Linked DNA regions of Homo sapiens: region 2 is linked to region 1. Evidence: fine-mapped QTL for protein levels in blood plasma. Region 1 holds a variant in brackets. A gene starts in the other region. All regions are shown on their forward strands.

Region 1 (5,390 bases):
ACACATTTCTGAGTCCTCATGAATTATACTTTCAACCTTCACTAATGCTTTTTTGCAGCTCATTTACAGGTATTATAACATTCCGTTTAGCTATAGATGAAGCATTCCATCCTTATAGTTAGCCAAGTTCTTCTATTGTGGTGTAGAGATCTTTAGGTGAAACCATCTTTAGAGTCTGTCATGAACCACAGGGTGAAAAAGACCTATCTGTATTACAGTATGAACATCCTTTCAGGAGAGGTCTACATTCATGCTTTTGCATATAACTCATATCAGTTTAATTTCTAACCTCTTCTTCTTTAGCTTTCCATTGGCATTCCATAGCAGAAGCTCTTCCTAATGTGAAATACAAGAGAAGATCTACAGATTCAAGAATTTGTGTCTGGGAGGTCCACCAAGAACTCTGAACCTCAGTTCTTTATTCTCCAAAGGATACTTTGATATGTACCCATCAGTGAGGACAGGGACTTTGTACAAGAAAGAGAAATTAATGAAACTTGTGAGCATCTGAATATTCTGATATCTTACCTCCCCACTCCCACCCTATCTAAAACCTCATCACCTGGCTTAGCATATAAAGAGCTTAATGGTGGGATACATCAGGCTGACCTAGGTTTAGGACCTAGCCACCATTATAACTTTTGGCAGCCTAGGACAAGGTATCATTCCCTTCTAAGGCTCAGTTTTCTCATGTAAAATGGAGATAATAATATCCACTTCTTGGGGTAGTTGGGAGGATTAAATAAGATTATATATGATAAATGTTCTCCATAGTACCTAGCACAAAATTAATCTTTAAAAAAAGGAGATCTATTATTATCTAAGTACCATAGTGGGCCAGCTTCCAAGTACTTAGGAAAGATCCTTGCACAAAGTAGGAGCTCTTTAAATACTGTGCAGGCAGCAAATGCCAGTTACGTTTTCAAATTTGGCTTTTGTTTATTTTGTCAGAGACTAGAGCATATTCATGAGCAGAGGAAAAAGAAGAGATCCAGAGTATACCAAATTTTCCTTAAACAACTTTATTGAGGTATAATTTTTGTCCAATATCACCCATTTTAAGTATATATTAAATATATATTTGATAAGTTTTGACAAACATATGTAATCACACATATGAAACAAGTCCCTGAGGTATGGAGGTACTGGGATCCAAAACAGAAATATAAGGTGTGACCTGACTAAGAAAGGAAAATTCACCCTGTCAGGTGGTCAAACCAGAATGACTCCATTTTGAGTGAGGGCTAGGAAAATGAGGCTGAGACTTGCTGGGCTGCATTCTAAAAAAGTTAGGCAATCCTAGCTCTTAGATGTTTATGGTTAAGGGGACAAATTAATAATGTTTACTAAACACACCCAGATTTAGGAGTGTCCGGGTATCCCGATATCTGGAGAATAAAGGCATTCCTAATTTTGCTTTAAAGACAGTAGTATCAATTCTTGAAAAATATAGTAATTAAGAAAATTCATCCTTCATCACAAACCCTAGTAGCAGAACACATCTCCCCATATAATACAAGCATTGTACCTAGGGTGAGTGTGTTCCTCCTCTTACTTTCAGGAATGTCCTACTCTGTCTATAGAATAGCTGTTCTTCCACCACTTTACTTCCTTAATAAACTTGCTTTCTCTTTGCACTGAGGACTCACCCTGAATTCTTTCTTGCACAAGATCCAAGAACCCTTTCTTGGGGTCTGGATTGGGACCCCTTTCCTGTAACGGCCTCAGGCTCCCCAGGGAAGGAGTTAAGGTGGATGAAAATGTAGATAAATAGGCACTAGGAGGGGGTAGGAGATGACATTGAAAACATTCCCTAATGTTATCTATTTCTCCTATGTGATAAGAGGCAAGGTACTTGCTGAAAAAAAGGTAAACAAGGATGAGACAGGTTCTACCTTAGAATATGAAAGTTTAAATAGCATATGTGGGGAGCGACTGACAAGGAATGTGAATAGAAATTGCCCAGCTAGGTCTGTGTATATGTTACAGCCTGGGTGTAGCACGGAGAGTGTGAGTGCTAGACTAATTCAAGGTTGGGGGCTTCTCAGGGGGTAAGAATGAGGAGCAGAAGGCTGGAGACAAGAGTTTTCCCCAGGGTTTGTAAGTATTGTTGATGAACCATGGGTGT[G/A]TGCTGCTTAGAGAAGGAAGGGAAGCCATGAGGGGACCCAGAGGTATCATGTAATGAAGGGACTGAGAGAGCTGGGTATCTCCATGAAATGTGAGAGTGGGTGGGGTGGGAGTTCACACGAGCTGAGATGCACAGGGAGTTTCTTGCTAGTTGGATTTAACATTCCATGGAGGACATATTCTGAAGGATGATGTATTAGTTTTCACACTGCTATAAAGATACAACTGAAGACTGAGTAATTTTTAAAGGAAAGATTTAATTGACACATTGCACGTGGCTGGGGAGGCCTCAGGAAACTTACAATCATGGCAGAAGGGGAAGCAGGCACATCTCACATGGCAGCAGGTGAGAGAGAGAGAGAGAAGTCCAGGGGAAACTGCCATTTATAAAACCATCAGATCTTGTGAGAACCCTCTCACTATCATGAGAATAGCACTGGGGAAAATCACCCATATGATTCAGTCACCTCCCACCAGGCCTCTTCTCAACAGCTGGGGAATATAATTCAAGATGAGATTTGGGTGGGTACACAAAGCCTAATCATATCAGATAACAAAGTTCATGTTGTGCTCACAGAAATCAGCTCTTCACATACAGTGGAATGCAAAGTTAATTTGTTAATAATGGATAGAAAAGAAAGAATAATTTTGACAACACTAAGCTTTTTTTTTTTTTTTTTTTTGAGATGGAGTTTCACTTTGTTGCCCAGGCTAGAGTGAAGTGGTGCAATCTCTGCTCACTGCAACCTCCGCCCCCAGGGTTCAAGTGATTCTCCTGCCTCAGCCTCCTGAGTAGCTGGGATTATAGGTGCCTGCCACCATGCCTGGCTAATTTTTGTATTTTTTAGTAGAGATGGGGTTTCACAATGTTGGCCAGGCTGGTCTCGAAGTCCTGACTTCAGGTGATCCACTGCCTCGGCCTCCCAAAGTGCTAGGATTACAGGCATGAGCCACAATGCCTGGCCCAACACTGGGCTTTTAAAAAGCACTGCCAGTGTTTCAGTGGGTAGTGTTCTTACCCATAGTCTTGGGAGACAACTATTACATTGCATACTGCTTAATTCATTAGCAAATCCTATTGACTTTGCCTTCAAAATATGGCCGGAATTCCACCACTCTCACCATTTTTATTGCTACCACAGTTGATATGAATATCTGTAATTGCAGCTAAATTGGACTTCCTGCTAACATCCTTGATCCCCTATAGTCTCTTCTTGTTATAGCTGTCACAAAGATTCTTTTAAAGCACAAGTCAGATGATATTCTTCTCCGTTCAATACTGTCCAATAACTTCCCATCTCATTCAGCAAATGAGCCCAAGGGCTGCTAGACCTAAATAGCCACTCTATTCCCCACCCTCTGTCTCTCTCCACCTTTCCCCACCCATTTTATTCTTTGATCTCAACTTCTGCTCTCCCCCTTGCTCATTTGGCTTCAGCCACCTGGTTCTCCTTGTCAATCCTGGATCACTACCTGCATATTTTTACTACAAAATGTTTATTCATGGTTCTTTCTGCTTTCTAAGTTTTTTTTTTTCCTATATGTCTGTGGTATTTACTTCCTCACTTCCTCTGCTCTTTGCTCAAACATCAAGCTAGGGCCTCCCCTGACCATCCTTTTTAATGTTGACTTCCTCCCCACTACAAATATTCAGCTCCTGCTATTGATTTATTTTTGCCATAGGACTTATTATCTAATATCTTATATATTTTTATTATGGTTTATTGTCTCTTTCTTTCAACTTGTGAATAAACTCCATTCAAGTAGGAATTTTGTCTGTTTTGTTATCTTCAGTACCTGAACAGTACCTAGCACTTAATAGGCAATCAATAAATGAATTGACTGTAAGGATATTTGTCCTGACTCAGAAGGTTAACAAGGATATCCAGGACCTGAACTCAGCTCTGCAACAAGCAGACCTAATAGACATCTATAGAATTTTCCACCCCAAATCAACAGAATATACATTCTTTTCAGCACCACATTGCACTTATTCTAAAATTGACCACATAATTGGAAGTAAAGCACTCCTCAGCAAATGTAAAAGAACAGAAATCACAACAAACTGTCTCTCAGACCACAGTGCAATCAAATTAGAATTCAGGATTAAGAAACTCACTCAAAACCATGCAACTACATGGAAACTGAACAACTTGCTCCTGAATGACTGCTGGGTAAATAACGAAATGAAGGCAGAAATAAAGATGTTCTTTGAAACCAATGAGAACAAAGACACAACATACCAGAATCTCTGGGACACATTTAAAGCAGTGTTTAGAGTGAAAGTTATAGCACTAAATGCCCACAAGAGAAAGAGGAAAAATCTAAAATCGACACCCTAACATCACAATTAAAAGAACTGGAGAAACAAGAGCAAACACATTCAAAAGCTAGCGGAAGGCAAGAAATAACTAAGATCAGAGCAGACCTGAAAGAGATAGAGACACAAAAAAACCCTTCAAAAAATCAATGAATCTAGGAGCTGGTTTTTTGAAAAGATCAACAAAATTGATAGACCACTAGCAAGACTAATAAAGAAGAAAATAGAGAAGAATCAAATAGACGCAATAAAAATGATAAAGGGGATATCACCACTGATCCCACAGAAATACAAACTACCATCAGAGAATACTATAAACACCTCTATACAAATAAACTAGAAAATCTAGAAGAAATGGATAAATTCCTGGACACATACACCCTCCCAAGACTAAACCAGGAAGAAGCTGAATCTCTGAATAGACCAATAATAGGCTCTGAAATTGAGGCAATAATTAATAGCCTACCAACCAAAATATGTCCAGAACCAGACAGATTCAAAGCCAAATTCACCAGAGGTACAAGGAGGAGGTGGTACCACTCCTTCTGAAACTGTTTCAATCAATAGAAAAAGAGAGAATCCTCCCTAACTCATTTTATGAGGCAAACATCATCCTGATACCAAAGCCTGGCAGAGACACAACAAAAAAAAGAGAATTTTAGACCAATATCCCTGATGAATGTCGATGTGAAAATCCTCAGTAAAATACTGGCAAACTGAATCCAGCAGCACATCGAAAAGCTTATCCACCACAATCAAGTCGGCTTCATCCTTGTGATGCAAGGCTGGTTCAAAATACCCAAGTCAATAAACATAATTGATCACATAAACAGAACCAATGACAAAAACCACATGATTATCTCAATAGAGGCAGAAAAGGCCTTTGAAAAAATTCAACAGCCCTTCATGCTAAAAACTCTGAATAAACTAGGTATTGGTGGAA
Region 2 (5,390 bases), not on the chromosome of region 1:
AGAGGACATAGCATCCCAAATAGAGGCTTAAAGAGAAAACAGTGGATTTGACATGGGCCCATACTTTCTGTTATTGTCGGTTTGAGGAAGAAGAAAAGTAGAGGTGAAGAAGTTGCCTTCAGCAACTGGTAGCTACTGGTAGTTGAATCTCAGGCTGTGGTTCTACTTGGCACCTGACACTTGGAGAAGTGAAGACAGGGAGAGAAAGGTAATGGGAAGACTGGGCCCCCGGAATTGATACATAACACCAAGAAAGCAGTCAGTGAGGATTTCAGAAAGCCAGGAAAGATGGTCTATTATGAAGAGAACTTGCTGGAAACACTTGAACACTTCCCTGTTTCTGGTGAGATTTGATATCCAGAAACACATGTCTATTGAATTCAAGTTTCTCCTAATGCACATTGTAGCAATCAGAAAGAATTATAGTACTGCTATATTTCTATAAAAGATAGCAGAATCTACCTTTGACACTAATGCATGAAAATATATTTGTGTTTTAAAAAGGCAGCCTGCCAAATTTAATTCCTAAAATGAGTTAATTGCTATAGATGGTAAACAAAAAAGGATGGCTGGTTGTAGAAGGCCTTTATTGAGAATAGATGAGTTGTATTGTAGTACAATTCTTAGATCATGTCCACATAGAAAAAAATAAATTGATGATATAATTAACCCATTTTAACCTATATTATAATTCAATTTAATTAATTTATACTGATAAGATTTTTTTGAAAATCCTAGTCTAAGTAATTTTCTTCACTTTTCATATTGTCTGTTCCTTTTTATTTTTTGTAAGGATGTTTACTTTGCATTTTTTTTCTTGTATTAGGTAGAGATATCAGTTGAAAGATACCTTAAAATTTTGTGACACTGAATTTAATCAGCCAACCATTCCTAAGGAATTGATAGCATATTTACTATTTGGTTAGATGGATAGGCACTCTGGCATTAAATTAAGTCTCTAAAGTTGGCATTTTTTCTCCATTAGTTTGCCATCCTGCCCACTTACCTCTTGAATTTGAAAGATGTAAACAAAAGATTTCTAAAGATTAGAAAATTAATTTTTAAGATAATTAAGCTGTTTTGAAAATTAGAGTTTATTACAAAATATGTTATCATTTTATGTATTATTAATTTAACAATAAGTTTTATGACAGAAGATTTAAGTCAAAATAGTTGTACAATCAACAAGCAAATGATAATCATTTCCTTAAATGATTATCTGACTGATAAATGGACAATCAGTCAGACCATCAAACACCAGTTGATAACATAATCCATTTGGACAGGAACCACATTTCCAAAGGAGTTTTGATTTAGTCATTGGTGGTAAAACAAAAGATATCAGACTGTACCTTAAAAACAAAGAAACAAAACAAAACAAAAACTTGTCCAATTCAGTATACCTAATAGAGATAGGAATCAAATAGTAGTATATGTCATTAAACTTTTCCAACAAGATTCTGTGGTCACTTGAAGTAGAAAAACTTGGTTTTCCAATATAACTACTCAAATCAGTAAAAATAAATATTTTAAAGTTTTACTCTTATTTTAAAATTACTTGATTAGTTATCTGTATTTACATTAATATTTTTCAATCTTTGTTGATCCCTAATTATATTTCATATAATTTTATTAAGCTGTAGGCCACAAATTAACATTTCAAACTCAGCCAAATTTCAGGGACTATCCCTCTTTAGTTTAAGGATTAGATGAGATATGGACACTGTATATTGAAATAATCATGCACTAGAATGATAGATTTAAAATAATCTTTAAAATGTGTTAGGGAGATTTTGCCTCCCTAACACATTTTATTCAAAAGTTTTGCAGTATCTCTCAAAATTGTCACAACTTTCCCCCTTTCATGTAAATATTATGCTTTTACACATGAAATATGACTCTCTGGGCAGTATGTTTCCTGCTTGAGTTTTGCCCTTTGTGTTTATATTATCTCATGTTATACAAAGTCATTTTGTGACTAATTTCCAGAGCACTGAGTCACAGTGTGGCTGTTGCTTATCTTTTCTTTTTTCCCACATGGTAGTACTCTTGGCCCTTATTTTTGGTAATTATTTTATACTAATGAGTGCTTTTTCATAATTAAATAATTGTTTCTCTCATTATATTTCTGTGGTTGTTTACTGCTGTATTATATGCTTTCATTTTTCACTAGAAGCAAACATTTTATAACAGGAACATAACAGTACATCATGTAGGCATGTTATCTATTGTTTTAATTTACAAAATTGCACAACATAGACTTGATCGTAAGTATTCTCGTTTAAGTATCTCAGAATATGACCTTTGGTCTTTGGAGAATTGTAAAATATTTCCTTAGAGAGATTAGTTAATGCTGGCATAAAATATTCCATTTAGATTACGATTATTTTAATGGTTATACCTCATTTTAAATATCATCAACTAATAGTATTGAAAGATTATTTGAATAGAAGAATAACAGTCTCTATTTTATATGTTATGAAATAAAATGGAAAGGTAAACCGAACTTTCAAGAACTTCCAATTAACCAAGCACAATTAGTAAAGAATTCTACTACAATCTTCAAATTATAAAAAAGCTACATACACCAATTAGTTACAAAAATGTTTATGGTTTAAAATCATAAAAATTGCACATAAATTTGCTTAAGAACTAAATGCAAAATGCTGAGAACTCAAGTTTGGATTGCAGTTTGAGTTTACTCTGTTTACAGGGAAGGGCTGATTTTCATTTTACGCAAATAAACAGTGATCCTCCCCTATCAGTTCTTTGCCTCTCAGCACCCTGCTTTTCCCCCGAGAAAAAGAAATTAAAGTTATTTCTTATGGGCTAGACAGTATATTGCCAGGTACTCACAAGTAAAATCTCTGATGAAAGTTCTTGGAATGTTTTTTTCAAAACGGAGTTGAGGTTATTTTGTTTTTCCTTCCAGGTATTGAAGACAGGATTTATCTTCTCTACTTCTTCTTTTAGAAGCAGATCAAGAAACTGGCGATTGAAGAGTAACTGAAAGAAACGCAATCTGATCTTACTAGCAGTGAAAGAGCGAGGTAAGAATTTGACTATTATCCAGCCTAAAGTCGCTGCTGTCTGTTAGAGCAAAGAGGGAGCCTCAGAGTCGGCTTCAGAGATCACTGGCAGTTGGGAATAGCCCAACTTCCTGTTTAGGTCACTGCAACTCTGACTCTATTTAGTCTAAACCTCTTTTTTCTTTCTTTCTTTCTTTTTTTTAGTGGAGGAAACAGATGAAGGAAACAGCTTACACCAAGATTTCAGATACGATCATTTTGAATAGCTATTTCCTTTACTTTCCAGGATTGTTTTTGTAATCAGTTGAAAAAGAATGCTTTTTTCCCCCTAGAGTTAGGGTTTAAAAAATTACATATTTATTATTACACTGTTAATAAGCTTTTTTGCAGTTTGTTTCTTCTTCAAGTTATTTCATTTGTTTCACCCACTGTCAATGTATTTATTTTTTTTAAAAGTCTGAGGGCTACCGTTGGAGGTCTCTCTTAGTGAGACAATGTAATGCATTATCTATTGCAGGTGTCAGGCTTTGAGCCCTACCTTAGCTACTTGCTAACTTGGCTACTCAGCCCAGTTATTTGAATTCACTATGCCTCAGTTCCTTTGTTCCTAAAATGTCGATAATAAAAGTTTCTGGGCTTGATGTAAGTACTAAATGGCTTAATACATAAAAAGTACTTAAGGCAGGACCCAGCATGTAGCAAACCTCCAATAATTGTTGGCTATCATTATCGCTGTTTTCTGTATTTCTATTATTATTATTCTACAAAATATGTAAATATTTACAGATGTCAACCAGAGTCTCTGCTGTATGTCCCTATCATTGAGGTTCATCCGTACTGTCTCTGTATTGGAATTATGGTCATATCAGACTAAGATCACTAGAGATCTAATAAATGGGCAGAATCTACTTTGCCAGGAAGGCTGAAGACATTTGGTCAGAAAATGTAGGAGTTTCTTGCTTCTGCATCTCAGATTCTTTGTGCCTTCAATTTTTCTTGCTTTCCTTAGACCTCTCTGTAAAAGGTAACCTTTCATCTTGAGTGTTTTTAATACATATTGAATAATTATTTGGTGGTGACTGGAACATAAATTATCGATTTAATTCTCACAACTAGCTTATAAAGAAGGTCCTCTTTGTATGCCCATTTCACATGTCTAGGAAGATCGAGTTCAGTATGTGGAGCTGTGATTCTAATGTCATGCAGTCTGCCTTTAGAGCAAAAATGCATAAATCCTCCTCCATGCTGCCTTCTCACTCATGTTCTGGATTTCATATCATGTTAATAACTTATCTCCTATTACCTCATGCCCTGCCCCTCAACCACAATCAAAGCTATCATCTCACTCAGATTGTAGAGGAAAGTCCTTTTTTCTTGGTACCACCATGGACCTTGATTAAACTTTTGAGGAATCTGTAGCTCAGGTAGAGGCAAGCTCAGCCAATCAGATTTTCTTTCTTGAAAGTTTCGCCTCTCCTCCCTCTCCCTCTCCCTCTCCCTCTCCCTCTCCGTCTCCCTCTCCCTCTCCCTCTCACGGTCTCCCTCTCCCTCTCTTTCCACAGTCTCCCTCTGATGCCGAGCAGAAGCTAGACTGTACTGCTGCCATCTCAGCTCACTGCAACCTCCCTGCCTGATTCTCCTGCCTCAGCCTGCTGAGTGCCTGCAATTGCAGGCGCGCCGCCACGCCTGACTGGTTTTCGTATTTTTTTGGTGGAGACGGGGATTCGCTGTGTTGGCCGGGCTGGTCTCCAGCTCCTAACCGCGAGTGATCCACCAGCCTCGGCCTCCTGAGGTGCCGGGATTGCAGACGGAGTCTGGTTCACTCAGTGCTCAATGGCGCCCAGACTGGAGTGCAGTGGCGTGATCTCAGCTCGCTACAACCTCCACCTCCCAGCCGCCTCCCTTGGCCTCCCAAAGTGCAGAGATTGCAGCCTCTGCCCGGCCGCCACCCCGCCTGGGAAGTGAGGAGCGTCTCTGCCTGGCCGCCCATTGTCTGGGATGTGAGGAGCCCCTCTGCCTGGCTGCCCAGTCTGGAAAGTGAGGAGTGTCTCTGCCTGGCCGCCATCCCATCTAGGAAGTGAGGAGCGCCTCTTCCCGGCCGCCATCCCATCTAGGAAGTGAGGAGCCTCTCTGCCCAGCCGCCCATCGTCTGAGATGTGGGGAGCGCCTCTGCCCCGCCGCCCCGTCTGGGATGTGAGGAGCGCCTCTACCCCGCCGCGACCCCGTCTGGGAGGTGAGGAGCGTCTCTGCCCGGCGGCCCCGTCTGGGAAGTGAGGAGACCCTCCGCCCGGCAGCCGCCCCATCTGAGAAGTGAGGAGCCCCTCTGCCCAGCAGCCACCCTGTCTGGGAAGTGAGGAGCGT

Alleles and levels. Positions count from the first base shown, and alleles are read on the strand shown. Strength reflects both the effect of a copy and how common the allele is.
As copies of A replace G in region 1, the plasma level of the protein whose gene starts at base 3,092 in region 2 goes up (strong association).

What was found. PIP is the chance, under the fine-mapping model, that this variant and not a neighbour inherited with it causes the effect. The UK Biobank Pharma Proteomics Project read protein levels with antibody pairs (Olink). The fine-mapping took linkage between variants from a reference panel, not from the people measured, so its PIPs are less certain.
Region 2: TFPI starts here. The variant in region 1 is fine-mapped to the plasma level of the TFPI protein (UK Biobank, PIP above 0.99).

Annotation. Positions count from the first base shown.
Region 1 is chr1:169,496,288-169,501,677 of GRCh38, forward strand. No RefSeq gene overlaps it. Among named protein-coding and RNA genes, the nearest start is that of SLC19A2, 13 kb to the left of the region's middle. The variant G/A (reference allele first, on the strand shown) is at 2,129.
Region 2 is chr2:187,551,344-187,556,733 of GRCh38, forward strand. TFPI (tissue factor pathway inhibitor) reads right to left here and starts at 3,092. Exons shown (of 8, transcript NM_006287.6): 1 at 2,857-3,092.